3 linked regions of the Homo sapiens genome follow. The protein of the gene in region 3 purifies or fractionates together with the protein of the main gene of each other region. This does not show direct contact. Each region holds a gene or a part of one and is shown on either strand. Other genes may lie near its edges.

Region 1 (7,777 bases), on a different chromosome or scaffold from region 3:
CTGTCCTTGCCTCTTCTAGCCTCTGCTGGGTGTCTGCAATCCTTTGTGTTCTTTGGCTTGTGGCAGCAGAACTCCAGTCTCTGTCTCAACACATGGCCATCTTCTCCCTATGTATCTGTCTTACCGTGCCCTTCCTGTGAGGACACCAGTCGTTGAAGTTAGGGCCCACCCTAATCCAGTTTGACCTCATCTTAACTTGGTAACATCTTCAGAGATACTATTTCTAGATAAGGTCACATTCATAGGTACTAGGAGTTGGGACTTTAACATATCATTTTGAGAGACATAATTCAGCCCACAACAGAGAGCTTTGAACAGAGGGATTGTGATTCAGCTTCTTTTGTAAAAGGCTCCCTGGGCTGCTGTGTGGAGAAGGGACTCTAGGATGGAAGTCCTTTTTATGTGGTTTCTCTGTTCCAGTATCTGGCACTGTCACCCTGAAGTGGCAGCGCCAGCTTTCAGTTATCTAGCTACCTAAACTTTGTGCTGATTGTGACTTTCTCCTCTCCCTAATAAGTATTTTTATTGCTTAGCAACTTCTTCGTAGGTTGCCTAGGGAAGTCAAGTTACTCTGGTAATAGACTGCATGATGGAGCTGGAATTATTGGTAAAATGACATCAGCAAAAAGCTGATTTGGTTTTGCTTTAAATTGATAGCTCCATGCTGTGCTTACCCAGCTGAGAATTCAGCAATACCCTCAACTTGCCCTAGGCTGCATTTTGCCATTGTTCTAGGCAGGGACAACATGGGAATAGGCAAGCTTATATACTGGAGAATTTGTGTGCGACGCATAGCTGTGTAGCACTCTCAGTGATGAAGATAACACTTATTCCTCATAGCTTCCCTTTTCTTCCGTAAAGATTGGCAGATCAGAAGGGAGATTTTGAAGCTTGAAAGAACTATTTGGTGGCCTTTCCATCAAATTTAAATAAAGCTCATAAGACACATGTTAAGGAGCTGTTTGAAAGCCTTTTTGAATTGCCATCAGCTTGGGCGGCCCTTCCTCATCGTTTTGTCAGCTGCTAGACTGATTCATCCCGCCAGATTCTTTGCCAATTGAATAGAGGCCTGGATGACCTAGGCCCCCAAAACCACAGAGACCCAATTGTTTGGTCCTTCCTGTACCAGTGACTCTCACATTTTTTTCATTCTCTCTAAAAGGAAAACTTTTAAATGTTTATGGATCATGAAGGCTCTATGGGGTAGTTCATGAATGCAGACTGTAATTGTAGGGGTAGAGGAGTGTCCAGTCCAGGAAACAACCCTGCATATTATGAAGGCTTTCAGTTTAGGGTCTTTAAACAATAGGATGATTGCTCATCAACCTGGTCGTACCCTGACTTCCAGGGTCCTTGGGTGCAACATCCGGAGCTAGTCCAGAGTACCGCCAATGGCCTTGTCACACATACACAGCAAATGTGCAAAGACAGCCAGAGCACAGGTCTGCCTGGAGAGGATTTCAGTGGGCAGAAAGCCCTTCAGAGTCATTTCATATTGAAGTTTAATTTCTGGGACTGGATAAGTTCCCTTTCTCCCAAAATTATTGATTGTTTTGTTCCTGGTAAAGATAGTCTTTCATACTTTTGTGGTTCCAAGACATGGTTGGACCGCAGTTATAAATTATATAAGACTAAATCATTCTGGAAGAATGATTTACGAGGAGTTAGTCAGGAGTTGGAGTTGAAATATGTAAACATTCTGGCTTCCTGGTACATAATGGCCCTCAAACGTGTGGGCTACATTTACCATACCCATGGCTCCTGTGCTGACTTCTGTATAGTTCTTTGAACTCAGGGAAACATCTAAGACTATTTTGAAATGACTTTTCTTATACTGGAACTGCTTTAGGAACTTGCAGTATCTAAACTCTATAATGACTCTTCCTAAGAGTTGTATGCCAGGAGTTAAGTGGCGGATAAGGTTGTAGATTTTTTTTGAAGCCACATATAGAAGCAGGTTTTAGGCTTACTGGTAAAATAAAACTCTAGCTAAAGATATTTCCTGGAAATAACCAGACTGGTAGCTGTAAAGCTTGGGCTGGTCTGTATTTGCTATCTGTCTGTTTTCTCCCACTAAAGTTGTTTAATGCTGCTGCTGTTGTGGTGGTCTTTCTCTTTGCTGGGAAATATATTGGTGAAGAAACATCCTCTAGGAATGGACTTTTGAGGAGGTACAATCTCAAGTTCATCCTCTGTTTTGTTTTGCTTTGAGACAGGATCTATGTCTAGACTGGAGTGCAGTAGTATGATCATAGCTTACTGCAGCCTCCAACTCCTGGGCTCAGATGATCCTCCTGCCTCAGCCTCCTGAGTAGCTGGGACTATAGGCACACACTACCATGCCTGGCTAATTTTTTGTTTTGTTTTGTTTTTTGAGATAGAGTCTCGCTCTGTTGCCCTGGCTGAAATGCAGTGGTGCGATCTCGGCTCACTGCAAGCTCCGCCTCCTGGGTTCACGCCATTCTTCTGCCTCAGCCTCCCAAGTAGCTAGGACCACAGGCGCCCACCACTACGCCCAGCTAATTTTTTGTATTTTTAGTAGAGACGGGGTTTCACCGTGTTAGCCAGGATGGTCTCGATCTCCTGACCTCGTGATCCGCCCGCCTTGGCCTCCCAAAGTGCTGGGATTACAGGCGTGAGCCACCACGCCTGGCCAGTTTTTTTATTTTTTGTAGAGATAGGGTCTTGCTATGTTGCCTAGGCTGATCTCGAACTCCTGGCCTAAAGGGATTCTCCTGCCTCACCCTCCCAAAGTCCTGGGATTACAGGCGTGAGCTACCATGCCTGGCTTTTGTGTTTGCATGTGTGTTTATGGAGGACTTAGGGGTTGTGGCTTTGTGTAGCTGTTTCAGTCACAAAAACTGCAGTGGGTGCCCTCTGCCCCTTGAGTTTCTCCTTCACCAACATAGCCCCCCTTCCCCAAACACACACACCTTTATCTACAGATTGTTACCTCTCTCTGAGAAAGAGAATCTTAATTAGTGTAGAAGCTCTCACATCACCCTTGGAACAACTCGTTAAACCTCTCCAGTTTGATGTGTTAATTAAATGCCTAGGTATTTCAAACACAAACTGTAGTTCTCTGGACTTTTCCCCAGAATAGAAGAAAAGAGATAAATGGGATCTGTGCACAGATATTTACTGCCTCAGGCCTGTGAGGGAATGCCAAGTTGTTTGTTGACACAATTTTGGTAGTCTCGATCAGAATCAGCAAACTGTGACTCATAGACCAAGCCCTGCCTGTCCTGTTTTTTTGCATGGCCCTGAACAGAAGAATGAGTTTTACATTTTTTGATGGTTTAATGGTGATGTGTGAAAATAATGTGAAATCCAAATTTCAGGGCCCATCAATGGTCACACGATTATGTGAATTTACTAAAAACCATTGCATCATATATTTTAAAGGGTGGACTGTATGGTTTGTGAATTATATCTCAATAAAGTAGTTCTTAAAAAAAAACAAAACAAAATTTCAGGGCCCATCAAGTTATATATATATGAAATATATATTTTGGTAGATATGGGGTCTTGCTATGTTGCCCAGGCTGATCTTGAGCTCCAGGGCTCAAGTAAGTGATCCTCCCACCTCAGCCTCCCAAAATGCTGGGATTTCAGGTTTGAACCACCACTGTCATCCCCATAAATAAAGTTATTGGAATACAGCCATACTCATTCATTCATGTATTGTCTATGGCTGCTTTTGCTCTACAATAGCTGGGTTGAGTACTTGGAACAGAGACCAAATGTCTGGCAAAAGTCTAACATATTTACTATCTTGTACAGAAAAAAAATGTCAACCTACATCTATACTTATTACAATTTCAGTAAAAATACAGAGTTTAAGTAATTTGGGAAAATGGCTTTAAGAATGAAAAGGTGCAAGGTTATACCTGCTGAACAAATGAACTGTGGGCGTGAGGTGCCATTAGTCTAGGCCTGCATGTTCAGGGAAGGCCCAGGGGAGAGCCTGATGTGGCCTGGCTATTTGTCATATTTGCAAAGGGGAAGTGATGTAATTGGTCTGCAATGAACTTGATTTTCAATTGACTCAAAGATCTAAGGAGGAATAAAAATTATTTAAAAAGGAAATTAGGGAAGAATGGGGAGAATATTGGAATCATTTAATAGAAGTACAAACACATAGACTTTTAACTTTTGCCCATTAAATTTTTTTTAACATTTTATTTTCTTAAATTTTTTTTAAAAAAATAGTGATGGGGTTTCACTGTGTTGCCCAGGCTGGTCTCGAACTCCTGGGCTCAAGTGATCCTCCCACCTTGGCCTCCCAAAGTGTTGGGGTTACAGGCATGAGCCAGCCTCACCCAACCCATTAAATGTCTTTAATGTAACTTCGGGTGTATGAGAATTTGTAAGTTGACTGTGCAGATCTCTTAAAAGGTTGATATGGTGTATTTTTAGAATGTTTTAGACTGCACGTGTGTGTGTGTTTGTTTGTGTGTGTGTGTGTGTGCGTGCTATAGAAAACACAGCATGGAAACCTTGTTAAAATCAGAGGCTTTGATTTTTTATTCTAAAGCTTTGAGTTATATGTTTAATCAGATACTATGTGAAAAATTTTCATTAGGTACATATTGAAGTGTTCCATTCAAGTCTACAAGTATATCCTCCTAAGGATTTAGTTTAACATCCTTTCCCTGCTCCAACAAGGGAATGCTTTATTAGAGTTTCCTAGAAATAATGGGACTAATTAGGACCTTTCATATTACCTAGTCCAGCAGTCCAACCCATGTGGCTCCTTCAACAGCATCGCAGCCTAATGCTTTTAATTTAATTTTAAATTTTTAATGTTTTGCTGTGATTGCCTCTTCCACAGTTTGATTTTTTTGTACTGTATAATTCCATGTTAAGGTATTTAAAGCTTGAAAATCTTAGCATGATATAGCTACTTTGTTTTTTCATGTATTTTTAGCTCTGAAGTTGGAGATTCCAACCAGCTAATAAATGAGATCAGAGTCATGTGTTTTTTTGTTGTTGTTGCTCTATCACAATGTAAATGTGCCCCTAGGAAGCACCTGCTTCTATATGGTGCCTTACCCAAGGGAGTGTCTTCCTGGGGAAAAAAGTGTAGTTTTTCCAGCAGAAACTTGTGAGAGTGCAGAACCACAGAGGAGCAACAGTGTCTGAATAAAAAATTCCAGGGCAGGGAAGCAAAGTCTACCTGCAGAAAGGAAAGATTTTAGTAACTATCAAATCACAATTTTTCTTTTAAGATGAGTGACAAAATCAAGACCTTGCACTCCCCCATTTTGGGCTTACCCAAGCATCGAATAAAGCAGTAGAACTTACTTTGGTACTTGCGGGTGGCAGAGACACTTTCTACCTGTGTATGTGTTTTGGGAGCCGGCAGTCCTTCTAAAATTATATTGCTGCCATGTAATGTCCCACCTACAAAATGGATGTGGCCTAAAGCCATTTAAACATTTAAATGAAAGAGCAGTTGCAGTGTCTTTTTCAGGTTACCAGTTATACTGCCCAGAGGAAATCTTGGAGGGTATAAACCATTTTGTCACACTCTCCTAAATCCAGAGTAGCGATGGGAGATAATGGTTTATCCACCCAAAACAACCCTCTCAGTGGAGATTTCATAACCAAGGTTGCTAAATTGCCTGGTGACTATTAAATCTGGGCTTAGAAAGGCTTTGCTACTTGTGAGTTCAAGATCTCACCCTCACCTTTGCATGTACATGACCTAATTTTATGAGTTCAAACAAACATGATTAGATCCCCAGGGTTTAGATTGATGATGGCCAGACTCACAAGGGAATAATAATAATGGCATGGAGTATTTTATTAATTCACAAATGAAAAATGTATCTTGACAGTTTGGCAGATGCAGATACTCTCCTAGCCAGTCGAGGACCCTCTTTCTTATATCATAGCTGGAAATATGACAATAAATGATTGATCTCCAGCTTTCCCATTACAATATTCCCACCTAGCAGATCACCAGCTATCTGTTTCAGCCGTATTTATTTATTAGATGTGTTGGGAACAAGTAATCTTTGTTTGCAGCATCTTGTTTGATTTTTATGACCATGATTCTGCGAGATAGGACACAAGTGATTTCCATTTCACAGATTGGGAAATTGAGGCCAGAGCCTTTACTGCTAGTAGTGGACCTGGGTTTTGAATTCAGCTTTTAAGATTGCAGATCCAGAGCTCTTTGGAACATATTATACAGCTTTTCTCTCCAGGAAATTTGTGAATCCCTCTCTGTTGTTCACTATCTGAAGAGAAGACATATCAGAGGAAATAAAGGGTCTTAAAATGTTGCCAGAGCAGGGTGTGTGATGGGGGAAAGCATCGTCTTAAGTATCCTGTCATGTGATAGTAGTTTAAAAAATCAAAAAATACATCTTCCACATGTGTGAACTTGGCACATATTATTCTGAAGTATGAAATGTATTTTAGGAAGTTGAAACATCAGAAGTTTGGAAGCTTGCAGCATGATTTAGATATAAATTAATAGTCAAGCAAAAATCATCACTGGATAAGTGCAGTGGGATTGAAAACATTTTGCTTCCTCAATGCCTAGCTTCAGCTCATCAGTGAAAAATAAAGAAGGAGTAGACAAATTCAGTACTAGCCTTTGCATTCTGTCTCCACCTGAGTCATGCATGGTTGAGAAGAGGCAGGTGTGTGGAGGTGTGTGCGGCTGCCAGGGGCTCTGCGCCTGTTTTATGGTAGATAGAGGAGTTTTTAAGAGGCCTTTGTTGGTGATCTCTGGCTGCATAACAAATTACTCCAAAACTGAAAACAACGAACATCTCACATAGTCTTTGTAGTTGGGAAATTTGGGAGCTGGGTGGTGTGGCTCAGGTCACTTTTGAGAATGCTGTCAAGATGTCGGCTGGGACTGCAGTTGTTTAAAGACTTGACTGAGGCTCAAGAATCCTCTCCTAAGGCGGCTTACTCATTTGCCTGGGCTGTGAGTGCTGGCTGTTGGTGGGAGGCTGCAGTCCTCACCATGTGGACCACTGCTGGGTTGCTTGAGTATCCTCACAGCATGGCAGCTGGCTGCCCCAGAGTGAGTGATCCAAGAGCAAGCAAGATAGAAACTGCAGAGTCTTCTGTGACTTAGCCTCAAAAGTCACACTTATTTCCACAGTATCCTTTTGGTTACACAGGTCAGTCCAAGGGCATGTGTACCAGGAGGTGAGACATATAGGGGCCGTCTTGGAGGCTGGCTACCACAAAGCCCTTTTCCACTTTTTAAAAAACTTGCATGAAAGGATATACAAGGGTATACATTCTTAGATGGCAAAGCTTTTCCCATTGCTTTCTTCCTTTGGCGTCTCTTCACTATGCCCTTCCTAACCCCACTCCTTCTTGCTGCCCTCTTTCTTAAACAGGAGCAGAACTGGCTGAAGAAATTATATAGCCGCCTATTGGCTTGTGGTCCTGCCATGGATGTGTCTCATGCACCCAGCATGCTGGCTGAGATTGCTCTGTCTGGAGGCCCCTCTCTTGCTGAACATTCCTCCCTCTTCTTCTTTATCCAGCATCAGCTTCTCAGCTCCATGTGGGTGGTTGCTACTTTGTGAGAGAGGCAGTTGGTATTTTGAATTTTCCAGTAATTATTTCTGAAGAGATGCACATTATGGTTGTTTGGCAGCAACAGATTGAAGTTACACAATCCCAGATCTCTGCACAGGAGCCCCATCTGTTAGCACGTGCTCTTTCCCCCCTTGCTCTTCCTGCCAGAATAGGTTGGGGATGGGGGAGAAGTTTTGTGGGGAGGGCCTTCTATGATTTC
Region 2 (7,777 bases), on a different chromosome or scaffold from region 3:
GAAGAAAATAAGTTTAACTCAGTAGGAGAGTGGAAAGGGATTTGTAGTTGATAGGTCTATATGTCATTTTTACTTGTGCTCATATAATGAAAAACATGTTGATGATTTTTCCTTCTTCAACAGGTTGCTAATAATTTATACTGGAATCTGGCATTTTTCCAAGCCAAGAGAAGATCGAATGGCTTTTTGCAGCTAACTACTATGTGTAGACAGGTTTTATATTATAAAGTATGCATTCTTATCACCTAGTATATAGTTAGTTTGTAGAGTGATTTCCCCCCAGTTTCTTGAACATGGTATCTTCACATCTTGGACCTTGGTCAGTTGTGCTATTCATTATTAAACACTAAAACTTTGGCGGTTCTTGCATAACATTGTCAGATTTTTTAGTGTATTTCTGTGAAGTCATTTTTTTTCTTGTCATTCCTTTTGTAGTAGTTGCTGTTTGGATAAAAGTTGATGTGTGATTTTTTATTAAACAAATAGTAAACCCTTCAATTATAGTTAGTCTTGGTGAAGTAAGATGTTTGTAGACTTTAGAGTTCTTTAATTCTTGGCACAACGTGACTGTTGAGCTAACACCAAATAGTGTGTTGGCAATACTTTTCAAATGGCTGAAAACACCTAAAAATTGTTCATTCAGAAATATCTGTCACTGCTCTGTTGCCAAAACTCAGAATAGAACTTAGACGTATGTCTGAGTCCCTGAGATCACATGCTAAAGTCGATGAAAAGTAACCACTGCCACTGTCTTGTGTCAGAACTTTTACAGTACAGAAAATAACAGAATAGCCTTCTGTAATGAGGCGTTTGTTAGAGTTTTGCATGAGATTCTAATACTTCAGTAGGACCCTACCTACGTGGTTCATCTACAATGGTTACCATAAAAAATCTGGCAGGATTTTAAAACTCAATCAGTCTTTCCTTTGAGCTAGTGACTTGAAAAGAAAGAGAGAAGGAAAAGAGACCATATTAAGTCCATGCCAGTTGCTTGGCTAGAATATGATCAACGACTTGTAGTAGACTCAAGTTTTTAAAAAACACTATTTTACTTAAACTGTTTCTTATCTAAATTCTTGCAGAGTGTCAATGTTATCATTGATTATAGAAGACAGGGATAATACCTTTATCTCTGGCCACTCAAAAATGCAGTGCCAGGAGTGCTAAACCTAGAGGCCAATACTGATGACCTGGAAGGTGATCCATATGATTGTCACCACAAAGTGCTTTTACACAAAAACTTGAAAATTTGAAAAACATGATTTTTTTAAGTTTCTCATCTCACCAGTCTTGGTGTTTATATTGCAAATCTATCAAAGTAAGAAATAATTTGTGCTGTATACAAATTACATGGGGAACATAAAGGAGTGAGATCCTTCTGTGATAAAATGAATTCACCACTCTGGTTACCCAACTACAGAACCTCCTTTGATCAGGCCAGTAGGTTGTGATGCAGGCTGGAGCCCCCGAATGCCCCACACACACTGCAGCATTGACCAGACCATCCGAAACCTGCGTCCCTGGTGATGTTCTCAAGCCTCGGAAGTGGCAAATGGAAATGATATGGCCGGTTGCGGTTGTAGGAGAGTTGTGACTTAGGCAGGAGTCGACCTCCTCAAGTAATGGAACGATTTCAAAGGCAGGCTGCCCTGACCAAAAATATCTGCCATGAATAAAGGTGCCTGAAATCCTGCTATGAAGCTTCCTTTGTGTCAAAAATCTGTTTGGTTTTCAGATGGAAATGCAGAAATCACATTAGAGTATCAACTAAAACCTCTGGACGGATTAAGTACAAGTAGCCCAAGGCAAAGCAGGAGAGGGGGTGTTGGGGGAGGTTGCCTGCTGGAAGGGGAAGCTGAGGAGCGGGAGGAGGGCTTGCCAAGACTGGCATTGCAGGAGACTTGTCTCAGGTGTGTTCCCAGAACTCTTGCCCCTGGAGATGCTGCAGGAAGGAAGGGGTTATGGTCACTTGGGTTTAGACGACATTCTGTGAACCTCATGAAGAAATTAGCATATTAAAGACTCTGAAAGTAGAGCAGAGAACTCAGCTTTAACCTGCTCACCTGCTAGTTTTCGAGGTCTCGCTCTGTTGCCCAGGCTGGAGTGCAGTGGCACAGTCATAGCTCACTTGGAGCCTGAAGCTCCTGGGCTCAGGCAGTCCTCCTGCCTCAGCCTCCCAAGTAGCTAATATTACAGGTTCGTGCCACCGCACCTGGGTCTTGCTGTGTTGCCCAGGCTGGTCTAGAACTCCTAGGCTCAAGCAGTCCTGTCTCAGCCTCCCAAAGTGCTGGGATTACAGGCTGGAGCCACCATGCCTGTCCAAGGGTCTTTTTTATACTATATGAAGTATTCCTTCTCCAGCTATTCTTGTTCGTTTACCAGCCAGTGAAGATTCTCTTGAGGGCTGAACAATACAGATGAGTATGGGGGCCCTCGCACCAAGGAAAACAGCGTTACATTTAATTAAGTGCCCTGTCTCAAACCCCAAGGCCCCACAGCTTCTTCATTTGGCCCCTAGTTCATCCTGCTTTCCTTTGAGCCACAGGATTTTAAAATATTTCAATCTTATTTTCATATCAATTTTTTCTTTGTTTCACTACAAGTACAGTCATTGTTTAACCCTATCAGGACTAACACAATATTTCACGTAACTAAGAGTTAATTTGCCCTTGTGAGTCCTTGGAATTTAAGCCCCACACACACACACTTAGAGCACTGTTGCTATGGGAACATAGAGTCCTCCAAACAAAAGTGAACTTTTTCAACATGCTGTTTGTAAATGGAAGCCTTCCCAAGCAGACACTGTGTTCCTCTTTTATTTTGTATTTTGCACATTATATATTTTGATTAGATTAAAATGGAGGAATTTGCAGGATGTGTTGTCATATCTAGCCCTGAAAGTTAACTGGTTACAGTTACCAAATGTTCACAGCTAGCGCCATTGAAAGCATTGACTGTAAACCGCTGTACTGTGCTAAGCCTTTTGTTTGCACTGTTTGGCTTAATCCTCACAACAACACTGAGAGGTTTTCATTTGATGAGTCATATTTAAAGAAAAGGAACCCAAGACGGGGAGTCAGGGGCACAAGGTCACAGCTGGTAATGATGACCCTGGAATGTCCTCACAGCTGCACACCTGCACCGCTCACAAACACAGCTGACCGTCTCACAGCTGCACACCTGCACCGCTCACGAGCACAGCTGACCGTCTCACAGCTGCACACCTGCACTGCTCACGAACACAGCTGATCGTCTGCCTCTTCGTGTGAGCTGAGCTCCGAATCTCAGCTGTCCAGGCTGTCTGGAAATCATCAGCCCCACTGGCTGGATCTCAAAATTTACTTTCAAAAGGCTGATGGAGTGTTTTCAATTAAACATGACCTAAAATTAAGTAATAAACACACTGGATGTGAGTTTTTATTTGGAATTTAAACTATTCAGAGCTGGTAGAAAATGTGTGCTCCTGGATCAGTGCCTTTTTTCTCCTAAATCAGTTGAGAACAACAACAGAAACAAATGACATTCCTCAAACATTTGCCCAGAGCACAACCACGGGGAATATGAACCACAGGTTTTCACATTGGTTTTCCATGCCTATACCTGTCCTGTCTCCCACAAAAATTATTGCTTGAGGCCCAACCCGGGGGATAAAAAGACACCCCCCCGCCACTCCGTGACCTATTAGCTTACCATCCTATTGGATTTCACTGTTTTTTGTTTTGTGGTGTTTTTTTTTTATTGCAACGAAGACTTTTAAATGGACTCATGAAGAAGCCATCACCTGGAATCTTAATCTTGCATTAATTTTAAGTGTCTGATTTTAGCTGCAGCCACTTGAGAACTTTTCAATGAATGAAAATGAGGGAGGGGAGATGCAAGTCACTGCCCAAAAACAAAACCAGAGGAATTGTGATTGAACATTGCACTTATCAACCCTACAAATTAATATGGAAATAGGAAAAGGGTTTGTTTCAACAAGTCAGGATGACAGTATTTTAAAAAAGAAAAAAAGGCCAGCCTGGGCAATATACTGAGACTCCATCTCTACAAAAAAGTAGAAAAATTAGCCCAGAGTGTGGTGGCACACATCTGTGCTCCCAGCTACTCAGGAGGCTGAGGTGGGAGGATCATTTGAGCCCAGGAAGTCGAGGTTGCAGTGAGCTGTGATCGGACGACTCCACTCCAGCCGGGGTGACAGAGCAAGACCCTGTCTCAAAAAAAAAAAAAAAGGGCGGATCCTAACGCTTGGTCCTCACACCTGAGGCTCTCACTAAGAGGTGGCTGGAAGCTCCTCAGACCGCTGCCTAGGGTTCGAGTGATCCTGAAAGCTGTACAACATCAGCCTCTGTGGGATCCCTGAGAATGATGAAATGTAATATGTGGCTGTCTCATCAACAGAGCTTCATTTTACCAAAGCATATGTAGACACCACATACATGAACTACATACCTATCGTGTAGATGCTGCCCTGCCTCATAAGAACACTCTTGACTGTCCTGCTTCACAATAATAATCTTCGCAATAATGATCTAATAATGGTCAAATTCTGTGTCTCTACCGTAGAAAACAGAATTTGACCATTTAGTCACGTTGGTCTTGCAAAATGTCCACCTTCCAAAAGAGAACAGTATTGCTTCCCAATAATTAAGAATAGTCTGGATTCAGGATCCAGCAGCTTAGAAGCGTTTAGCTACCAATAGCAAAAATCAGCCCTTTTAACAATGGTGGGATGTATTATTTCACATGGCAAGAAGTCCCAAGGGAGGGCAGCTCTGGGGCGAGTAAATTCTGCACCTCAGTAAAACTAAGAGCAAGACCCGGCCGGGCGCAGTGGCTCATGCCTGTAATCCCAGCACTTTGGGAGGCCGAGGTGGGTGGATCACCTGAGGTCAGGAGTTCTAAACCAGCCTGGCCAACATGGCGAAACCCCCGTCTCTACTAAAAATACAAAAATTAGCCAGGCGTGGTGGTGGGCGCTTGTAATCCCAGTTGCTCGGGAGGCTGAGGGAGGAGGATCGCTTGAACTCAGGAGGTGGAAGTTGCAGTGAGCCGAGATCGTGCCACTGCACTCCAGCCTGGGTAACAGAGCGAGACTCCATCTCAAAAAATAAAAAACAAAAAAATAAATAAAAAATAAAAAGACCCAACCCCAGATTTGTTCCACCTGGGTGCATCCGGTCAGAGAATGCCTTTCTTCTTCCCTTTTGTCTCCTAAGAGTGAAGAAAATGTTTCTTTGAAGGTGTTTCCACCCCACTCCTGTGCCTAAAATGATCCTGGCAAACAGGACCCGCATGATAGGTTGAGCCATGTGGTTCTTGTTTTTTTGTTGTCACAACTCAGGTTGGGGGTGTTACTGGCATCAAGAGTGTAGAAACCAGGGATGCTGCGTCAACACCCTACCATGCACAGGACAACCCTCACCCCAAAGAGTGGCACAGCCCCAAGTGTCAACAGTGCTGAGGTTGAGGAATCCCAGCTTAACCCATTCATGAGACCACCTGAGCCTGGTGTAACGGTTCTGCTGATAGTTTCCGGACCCTCAGAGGTGGAGACATAAGAGAACAATACCAGGGTTCCATCAGAAAGGAAATCAGAATGGCTATCGGGTGGACAACCTACAGTGTTTGCTACAGACCTTCTAGATGTAACTTCTAGATTATAAACACTGGTAACACTGGAGATGGTTAAATCGGAATTAGCTGACTGTCAACCTTGGTGGCACATTAGAATCACCTGGGGAGCAGTTCAAAGGCCCAAAACTGGGCAGCACCACAGAACCCTCACATCAGAATCCCCATGGGTGGGCCCAGACAGCAGTGTTCATCTTAGACTCCAGTGTGCAGTCGAGGTCGAGAACTGCATTCAAGAAGGCCTGTCTACTGCGAACCGTCCGATGATGTAATTCACCAAGTTCCATGGGATTCCGCCACGCCCGTGTCAACCCAGCTGACACGTCCAACTTGGACAATCAGGGCTTTGACCCCCGTTACCTGGCATTCAATTCAATCCATGTGTCACGCATGCCCCAACAATTTGTGTCCCAACTGTTTGAATCAAAGGATTTCTGATTCCCTGATGGGTGATGACTCAGTAACCGGATTCAGCTTCAGATCTGCCTGACATTTTTCCTGCCTGTCCTGGGCCAGGTATGGCGCTAGCTGCTTTCACCTGTATCATCTCATTCACTGCTCAGAGGCTCTCGAAAGCTGTTGACATTATCAAAAAGTTTTCCAGCTGGAATTCATCTCCCTCTAATCAGCCTTCAAAACCTCCATTTGTAAACCATTGCTGTAGTTTTATTACCTCTTACCTTGGTCTTTACAAGTTGCTGTCAAAACCCAGTAAGTGTTTACAGAAAGAAACTTTACATATTAAATATCTTAAAGGTCTTTTATGCAGAATATGCAGTTAATTTTGATGGGCTATGGATAATCATCAGAAGAGCCATTTCTGGAAATGTAAATAATATGGCTGTTTCTTTTAACAGTGCATTCTCCTGAAAACATAAGACCATTTGACTGATTCTGCTCCAGAATCTTATTGAGGCAAAGGACTGGACCGAATTATTCATGGAACAGAAGCCTAGGACTGGTAAGTCCAGGAAATGCTGCAAAACAATGCCCTCAAAAGAAATCAGCCTTTCCCTTTGATAGGTATCTCTCCTGCAAGCCAGGCTCAGGTGCGCCTCAATTAGAACCTGTGTTCGCTGGGGCCATAATTAAGAATCTTAAAGGGAAAGAATGTTTTGAAAGCCATCTGTCAAAAGTACGCAGTCTTGCTTGTAGAATTTTAGAGGTTCATGGTTACCGTGGGTCGGCACTGGGTCTGTGAGCCCTCATCCCCAGGGCTCGGTTTCCTATCAGAATCCTTGTCTGGAAGGTTGATTATATCAGATGCGCATTTTGCCAGCATCCTCAGAAGGAGATGCGAGGAAGATTCTTTTCCTGGGCCACTCTCATTTTCTCAAACTTGGACAAGTCTTAACAATAATCTGTGACCCAACTTTGTCTTCCCCATGATGAAAAACAGACCCCATAGAAACTCTCTGGCACAAAAACTCTGGAATCACTGACCCCAGACATTGTTCCCTGCCATCCACTCTGCCAGACATTTCTTGGATTTATTCAAGCTGACTTGTATTCCAGAACAATTGTGGACAAGATTTGCTAGTAATGCTTCCAACAAGTTACCGTTTAGCAAGTTCAGAACTTGAAGAATCCCTTTTATCCTAACGCTGACTAATAAACTGGTGAGAACTGTTTGAAATACCCATAAGTCAATGGAGGTCGTAATTTGCTTTTATGCTGTATTAAACACCACTGAGATGTTAAGGTCTTTCTTGGGAACCACCGTGATGTTCTCTTCTGGACTCTTCGTAACCCCTTCAGCAGACGACCCTGTATCTGGTCTTGGTTCTGAAAGGTTTGCAGCGGCACCTAAGTCACTGAAGTTCTGGCAGAATTCATTCTCCTGCTCTCTACTGGGACTTGTTTTCCATAATTGGTCTGAGAACAACAGATTTTTTTCTTTTTTGCCTCGGATTTCAACAAAACATACATGGAAAGAATATTTTCTTCCTTGGAGACATTTCCCATAGGGCAGTGGTTCTTAAAATACGTTCCTGAACCGGCAGCATCAGAATCCCCTGGGAACGTGCTGGAAATGTAGATCCCCAGGCCCTACCTAGCCCTACTGAATCAGAGACCCTGGGAGGGAGGTCCAGCAGCCTGGGTTTTAACACATCCTCCAGGCGATTCTGAGAGTGAGAGAGCCAGG
Region 3 (8,107 bases):
TTGTAGACTTTTTCAGTAACTATAGAGCTGGCCAGCCACACTGTCATCTTTCAATCAATGCAGAAAATGTTTATTATGCCCCTACTATGTGTCAGGGATTGTGGTGCCTGTAGAGTGATACTAAAATGAGTAGAACACAGTTCTTATCTTTACTGACCTTTCACTACAGTTAAGTGCTGATAGACACATAAACATGATGTAGATGTAAAGGCAGCAACATAAAATAGTGCTAAAAAGAACTCTAAGTTTCATACCATCAGGACCCAAAGGAAAAATAATGTTTTATTTTTATAAGGAGGAATAGGTTCAGAGAAAGATGATTTTACATGAACATATCTTCCCAAGTCCTGAGGTATGTTTCTTTGTGTAGAAGTTGGAGCAAGAGAGTAGCACAGGCATTCATGAGTACAGAAACCGCTCTAGCAAAGGCTCCAAAGGGTGGGTGTGTGTGGTTAACTGCAATGGCTTAAGGATTGGCCCAGGGGAGATGAGTGGTTAGATATAAAATAGGACTTGGTTTGAGGCATTTAAAAGTGAACTTAAAGTGCATTTTAAAGATCTATGGCATGATATGCCAGTGGTTCCCAAATGTTGATGCATATTATAATCACCTAGAAAGCTTGTTTGAAAACAGATTTCTAGTATTCACACTAGACCTTCTAAATCAAAACCTCTGGGGTGAGGCCTAAAAACATTTACTTTTAGCAAGATACCCTGGTGAATCTTATGTTATTTGTTGGTAAATGCAGGGTGGACAGGTGGAGGGGAGAAGTTTTGAAGTCAGAAAGCAAGTTGGTGGTTACTAAAATATTCTAGGAGGCAGAAGGCAGGGTCTGTGGAGTGACAGGAGCCATTAGACAGAAAGATAGGAAGATAAAATATATGATGAGGAGCATGCTTGTAATCCCAGCTACCTGGGAGGCTGCTGCAGGTGGATCACTTGAACTCAGGAGTTCAAGGCCAGCCTGGGCAGCCCATCATATATATTATATATATATATATGGTGAGGAGGTAGTTGATAGGACTTGGAGACTGAATGTTAACTTAAATGAATCATGCAGTTTTCAAAAATGTAATTCATTATTGATTCAAACCCATCTTGTACTTTTCCATGTGCTCTCCTATACTTTGGAGGAAGTGTATCAACAAGGGAGTTCCATTGCCTGTAAACAGGCTCAAAATATGTTCACTCCAAGTGCTATATAGTAAGGTGAACAGTAGATGGCACTTTTGTACTATGCTGAATTTCCAAATTTGAAGGCCAAGGAAGAACCAGTGCTAAAATAAAAATAACTCTTTATAATGCTCAAGTAAGTACATTCAATTTCTGTTTTAGGGGGAACTGTATAAGAAGGGCTAATTAGAGGTCAGTTTGTCCTAGCTAGTACCCGGCCTCCAGTAAAACCTTGTAGGTTTTTAAATACTGATCCTGCTTGTGGCTCCCACCCACATAAATGATTAGGTTGCAGTCCAGAGAGGTCTAAATAATCATTGTAGCAAGTGGAATTAGGCTTGAGGTTAGAAAAAACTTCCCCAACTTTGACCACATTTCCAATTGTCTACCTCTGAGCTTTTGCTATTTGCAAAGGTGAAGAAAAGCCGAAAAGAACAAAATCAAATACTATGGAAAAGAACAATGGGAAGGGCAGTTTAGAGTAATAAATGAGGACAGTGGAATGAAAATAAAGGAGATATTACTTTCATTTTGTAAAACTTATTATTATAAACCTTGGCAAGAATGCAATGTTTTATACATTTACATAACACTTGCAATCACACAAAAGTCATGACAGTGATTAAGAGAGTGGATTCTGGGCCAGGTGAGGTGGCTCACACCTGTAATCCCAGCACTTTGGGAGGCCGAGACAGGCGGATCACGAGGTTAGGATATTGAGACCATCCTGGCTAACACGGTGAAAACCAGTCTCTATTAAAAAAAAAATACAAAAAAAATTAGCCGGGCTTGGTGGCGGGCGCCTGTAGTCCCAGCTGCTCGGGAGGCTGAGGCAGGGGAATGGCGTGAACCTGGGAGGCGGAGCAGCTTGCAGTGAGCCGAGATCGCGCCACTGCATTCCAGTCTGGGCGACAGAGTGAGACTCCGTCTCAAAAAAAAAAAAAAAAAAGAGAGAGTGGATTCTGGAGGCAGACTGCGAGTGTCTAAAAATCTCAACTCTGCCACTTCCTAGTTAGCAGTGTGCCTTGGGCAAGTAACTTAATGTCTTTGCATATCAATTTACTCATCTATAAAACGGAAATGGTAATAATAGCACATCTCTAATAAGATCGTTATGATCACTAAATGTCAAAATTTGTAAGGTACTTAGAAAAGTCCTGGCATGTAGTGAAAACATAGGTAGGTATATTAGTCCGTTCTCACATTGCTATGAAGAACTACCTGCGACTGGGTAATTTACAAAAAAAGCGGGTTTAATTGGCTCATGGTTCTGCAGGCTGTACAGGAAGTATGGCTGGGGAGGCCACAGGAAACTTACAAACATGGTGGAAGGCAAAGGGGAAGAGAGCATGGCTGCTCCATGGCTGGAGCAGGAGGAAGAGAGCAAAGGGGGAAGTGCTACACACTTTTAAACAACCAGATCTCGTGATAACTCACTCAGAACAGCAAGGGAGAAATCCACCCCCATGATCCAATCACCTCCCACCAGCCCCCTCCTCCAACACTGGGGATTACAATTCTACATGACAGTTGGGTGGGGACACAAATCCAAACCATATCAGTAGGTGACAAATTTTTTAAGATCAACTTTAGGTAATAGGATTAATATGTAGTTTCCCTCCCATCTTTTAAATTTAAAACATGTGTTTCTTGATAATTGAGAAAAAAAGTAAAAGCTAAACTTTTACTAAAACACTTAAATAAAAATCTATATTTTTTCTTCTTGTGAGCTAGTTTCTAAATCTCCAACTTCTTCCCTTTTCTGCTTCTCCTGTGCCCAATATTAGACGTAACATACCTATGAGTAATCCTGAGGTCCTGATTACTCTTCAGCTTCTGGCATTATTATTTTATTATTGGGGTGAAATACCTGTAATGAAATTTACCATTTTACCCATTTTTTAGGTGTACAATTCACTGGCATTAAGTACATTCACAATGTTGTGCAAACATCACCACTATCTATTTCCAGAACTTCATCATCCCAAACAGAAACTCTGCACCCATTAAACAGTAACTCCCCAGTCTCCCTTACCCCCAGCCCTAGTAACCTCTATTCTACTTTCTGTCCTTATGAATTCACCTATTCTAGGTACCTCATATGAATGGAATCATACAATATATGCTCATTTGTGTTTGGCTTATTCACTTAGCAAAATGTTTTCAAGGTTCATCCATGTTATAGCTTGTATCACAATTTCATTTCTTTTTATGGCAGGATAATATTTCCTTATATGTATATATCACATACATTTTGTTTATCCATTCATCTGTTGGATACTAGGATTGTATCCACTTTTTGGCTATTGTAAATAATGCTTGCTTTGAACACTGGCATCTGTTGGAGTCTCTGCTTTCAATACTTATGGGATATACCTAGCAGTGAAATTGCTGGATTATAAGGTAATTGTATGTTTAACTTTTTAGGAACTGACAAACTTTTTCACAGAGCTACATCATTTTACATTCCCACCAGTATCCAGCATTAGTTTTAAACATGGCAGGCTTTTAAAATAAATCAAGCCTAAACTGGTAATATGTAGCAAAACTAAGAGTCCTGCAACAGTTTGCTGACAAGTTGCTGATATCAACACTCTTAACATATCATCTCCTAGACTAATGCAGTGTTTCTCAACATAGACAGCTGAGACTCCCATAGTAATCATCTATGGAGCTTGTTACATCAGAAGGGCCCTGGATCCCACCTTGTATATGTTGATTCAGCATCTCTGGAAATGGAGCCCCCAAATCAACATTACAAATGCTAAAGCATGAGACTCACCAACCCTAGATTGCTGAGTTCTTGAAGGTAGGGGAAATATCTTAGTCATCATTGTGTCCCTCAAGGCCAAACATACAACAGATATTTAACAAGTGTATACTTAAATTAACTAATACTGTAATCTAAAGCCTACCTGTTTAGTTGTTAAGTACCATATTCAATAAAATTAAACTCAATCACTAGACAACTAGGGAATCTGTAATTAAGGTGTGTAGCATACCTTTCATTTGCATAAAACACATGTCTTACCAGCTGTGTTCTATCATGCCCTTTGATGTTGCTAAGGATCTTTACACTATATGTAATTTTCAGCTCAGAACATCACGCTTTGAGGCAGGGTTAAAAAAAAAAAAAGGATATGGACTTGGAATTAGAAGAACTGTCTCTGTGTGACCTCTAAGACCAATATCTAGGAATCAAGTTTATAACTTGGAAACATTGAAAACATTTTGTAATTCTACCAACTTCATTGTTTGGCTGAAGCACAAATGATACTATGTGTAACAAAGCCTGCTGTAGAAACGTGGTCTCACAAAAAACAAACAAAAAAAACCATGTTTCCAAGTCTTCCTAAAGACTTTAAGTATCCAGCTGTGTAAGTTTAGTGCTCTAAGGTATACGCAAATAAGCAGATGAGAATGGAAACATATCGCAGAAAATTATTAAGTGCATGCACAACATTTATTCATTCATTCACTCATTCATTCATCACGCACATCCAGCAACTATATCAATATCCTGCAGGGCACTGTGTGGAAAACAGTGGTTAAATAAATTCAAATCTGCCCTCAGGGGATTTAGTTCCTTTTAGTATATTAATAACTAGCAAGCTGCCCCTCTTCATGTCAAAGCTTTACGTCAACAAAATAAGCGGTAGGGGATCACCTTAAACGTCACGGGTGCTGTCTCTTTAAAACGTAATAGAACTCTGATCGCATCGATCACAGGCTCACAACGCCCTTCCATTCATCGCTCTTATTCCAGTCCTGGTTACTACCCCACTTCCTGACATCAAACCAGGGAGAACGCGAGTGTTAGTTAACATGGCTTGGTGTGTGGCCACAGCTGACCCGGCGCATACCTCCCGTCCTCTCTTTACAGGGCTGGCGGTGTCTCGGGGCTCGGCTGGCCATGCCTGGAGCGCGGGGTTTGACTGGGCCGCCGTTGTTGTAGTGACCGGGAGGCGCTGCCGCTCTGGGCAGACGGTTCCGGGAGCCGCACGGTCCCCTCTCCTTCCCCATCCTCTCCCCTCCCCTCTCCGGGTTCCCCCACCCACAGGAGCCTTGGGCCGACCACTCCCCCGATGGCCTCAGCCACGGTAAGGACGGGTTGGAGGTGGGGGGGGTCCCTCCCTGGAGCCTGTCCCGCGGGCTGCGGGGCCAGGTCCGGGCCGAAGCCGCACCTGGAGGGAGATGGAGGCAGGTGTCCGTAGCCGGGTCCTGAGCCCCTCGTCCCGGGGCGTCCGTATCTCACTCTCTGCCATCGGGGCGGACGGAGTGCGGAACCCAGACCCGGCTCCCGGACGCTCTTCCCCGAGTTCCGGAGCTCCGGACTGAGCTGGGCGGCCCCACGGCCCCCAGAATTCTCGGAGGGTTTCCGTGGAGCGCCTGCGTCAGAATCACCTAGGAAGTATTAAAAAAAAAAAAAGTACCAAAGCCGAGGCGCATCCTCGCACCTGCCTGCCTTGGGCCAGCGGGCGGGGCCCGGGAACGTGCATTTCAAAGGGGCCGCGGTTCCTGCGATGCGCTGGACTCTGGGAAGCGCGAACAGAGCGTTTTGCGGGCTCTGCGGGGAGAGCTGGCGCCGGCGTCTCCCTGTAGCAGGACTGGGCGCCGCGCCCGTGGGTGGGCTGCTGCCCGGCCCCGCCGCCCAGCCAAGCCGCCGCCTGGGTGGCCATTCCCAAGCCGGACTCCGGGGAAGTGGCAGCGTGGATCCCAGCCGCCAGAATTCGAGGTCTGCGGCGGCTTTCAAAACTTGACAACTTTCCTTTCCAGGAGGACCCCGTTCTGGAGCGTTATTTCAAAGGCCACAAAGCTGCGATCACCTCCTTGGACCTCAGCCCCAACGGCAAGCAACTTGGTAAGTCTTATTCTTGTTTTGCTTTTGTAATGAGACTAAACTCCATGGGCCGGAAACCTTTCCTCCTGTCCGGGCAGGGTCCCTAGGAGAACGGCTAAGGGCCTGTATGAGGGTTGAGAGCACCCGGAGACGAGGGCCCAGCGCGGCGGGGCGCAGCTAGGGCCCCCTCTGCCATCCCGGCCCCCAGCCCCCGGCCCGGCCAAGAGCCTCCTATCCAGCGGTCTGGGCCTGGCGGACGACTTTCGCAAACTAACCACCAGGAGGAGTGAGTGGGAAGGGGAGGGGTTTCTCCTCGGCCCGGGGAGGGTGGGGTGTTGGCTGGAGAGTTTGTGAAAAGTTGTGAGCCGAGCAGGAGGAAGTAGGGAGAGAGGAGTTGGGCTGTGCCGGAGGCCGAGGACCGAGAGGGCTCAGGTGACCCCTGGAAAGCCTGGGTGGCTGGAAAGGAGCCTAGCGCCTGCATGAAAGGAAGAACCTGCTGGGAAGTACCTGAGCTCGAGCTGTGGGTTCCGCCGCCCTTCCCCTGCGTGGTGGCTTGGTGGCCGCGTCTGCGCCTCAGCCCTGAGAATCCGGATGGCGGTGAGGTGGACTTGGGCAGGCAAGAGCTGCCTGCTGCTGGCGTTTTTAACAGTGGCCTATATCTTCGTGGAGCTCTTGGTCTCTACTTTTCATGCCTCCGCAGGAGCCGGCCGTGCCAGGGAGCTGGGGTCAAGAAGGCTCTCAGACCTCCAGAAAAATACGGAGGATTTGTCTCGACCGCTTTATAAGAAGCCCCCTGCAGATTCCCGTGCACTTGGGGAGTGGGGGAAAGCCAGCAAACTCCAGCTCAACGAGGATGAACTGAAGCAGCAAGAAGAACTCATTGAGAGATACGCCATCAATATTTACCTCAGTGACAGGATTTCCCTGCATCGACACATAGAGGATAAAAGAATGTATGAGTGTAAGTCCCAGAAGTTCAACTATAGGACACTTCCTACCACCTCTGTTATCATTGCTTTCTATAACGAAGCCTGGTCGACTTTGCTCCGTACCATTCACAGTGTTTTAGAAACTTCTCCTGCAGTTCTTTTGAAAGAGATCATCTTGGTGGATGACTTGAGTGACAGAGTTTATTTGAAGACACAACTTGAAACTTACATCAGCAATCTTGATAGAGTACGCTTGATTAGGACCAATAAGCGAGAGGGGCTGGTTAGGGCCCGTCTGATTGGGGCCACTTTCGCCACTGGGGACGTCCTCACTTTCCTGGATTGTCACTGTGAGTGTAATTCCGGTTGGCTGGAACCGCTTTTGGAAAGGATTGGGAGAGATGAAACAGCAGTTGTGTGTCCTGTTATAGACACAATTGATTGGAATACTTTTGAATTCTATATGCAGATAGGGGAGCCCATGATTGGTGGGTTTGACTGGCGTTTAACATTTCAGTGGCATTCTGTCCCCAAACAGGAAAGGGACAGGCGGATATCAAGAATTGACCCCATCAGATCACCTACCATGGCTGGAGGACTGTTTGCTGTCAGCAAGAAATATTTTCAGTACCTTGGAACGTATGACACAGGAATGGAAGTGTGGGGAGGTGAAAACCTTGAGCTGTCTTTTAGGGTGTGGCAGTGTGGTGGCAAATTGGAGATCCACCCGTGTTCCCACGTGGGCCATGTGTTCCCCAAGCGGGCACCATATGCTCGCCCCAATTTCCTACAGAATACTGCTCGGGCAGCAGAAGTTTGGATGGATGAATACAAAGAGCACTTCTACAATAGAAACCCTCCAGCAAGAAAAGAAGCTTATGGTGATATTTCTGAAAGAAAATTACTACGAGAGCGGTTGAGATGCAAGAGCTTTGACTGGTATTTGAAAAACGTTTTTCCTAATTTACATGTTCCAGAGGATAGACCAGGCTGGCATGGGGCTATTCGCAGTAGAGGGATCTCGTCTGAATGTTTAGATTATAATTCTCCTGACAACAACCCCACAGGTGCTAACCTTTCACTGTTTGGATGCCATGGTCAAGGAGGCAATCAATTCTTTGAATATACTTCAAACAAAGAAATAAGGTTTAATTCTGTGACAGA

The links. Proteins that work in one complex are often made in the same cells at the same time.
Region 1: the proteins of POC1B (region 3) and TACC1 purify together in Homo sapiens (affinity purification with mass spectrometry; 2 studies listed by BioGRID and IntAct, with this or other methods). This does not show direct contact.
Region 2: the proteins of POC1B (region 3) and HSBP1 purify together in Homo sapiens (affinity purification with mass spectrometry; 2 studies listed by BioGRID and IntAct, with this or other methods). This does not show direct contact.

Annotation. Positions count from the first base shown.
Region 1 is NC_000008.11:38,790,110-38,797,886, forward strand, and holds part of TACC1 (transforming acidic coiled-coil-containing protein 1), read left to right. Parts: intron 1-7,777. UniProt on the Homo sapiens protein: Involved in transcription regulation induced by nuclear receptors, including in T3 thyroid hormone and all-trans retinoic acid pathways. Might promote the nuclear localization of the receptors.
Region 2 is NC_000016.10:83,811,298-83,819,074, forward strand, and holds part of HSBP1 (heat shock factor-binding protein 1), read left to right. Parts: intron 1-123; 3' UTR 124-7,777. UniProt on the Homo sapiens protein: Negative regulator of the heat shock response. Negatively affects HSF1 DNA-binding activity. May have a role in the suppression of the activation of the stress response during the aging process.
Region 3 is NC_000012.12:89,523,048-89,531,154, reverse strand, and holds the start of POC1B (POC1 centriolar protein homolog B), read left to right. Parts: upstream 1-5,259; coding exon 5,260-5,274; intron 5,275-5,358; exon of another isoform or gene 5,359-5,585; intron 5,586-5,724; exon of another isoform or gene 5,725-5,950; coding exon 5,951-6,035; intron 6,036-6,358; exon of another isoform or gene 6,359-6,605; coding exon of another isoform or gene 6,606-8,107. Other genes in the region: GALNT4 (polypeptide N-acetylgalactosaminyltransferase 4), read left to right, coding at 6,606-8,107; POC1B-GALNT4 protein, read left to right, coding at 5,260-5,274, 5,951-6,035, 6,715-8,107; POC1B-DUSP6 readthrough, read left to right, coding at 5,260-5,274, 5,951-6,035.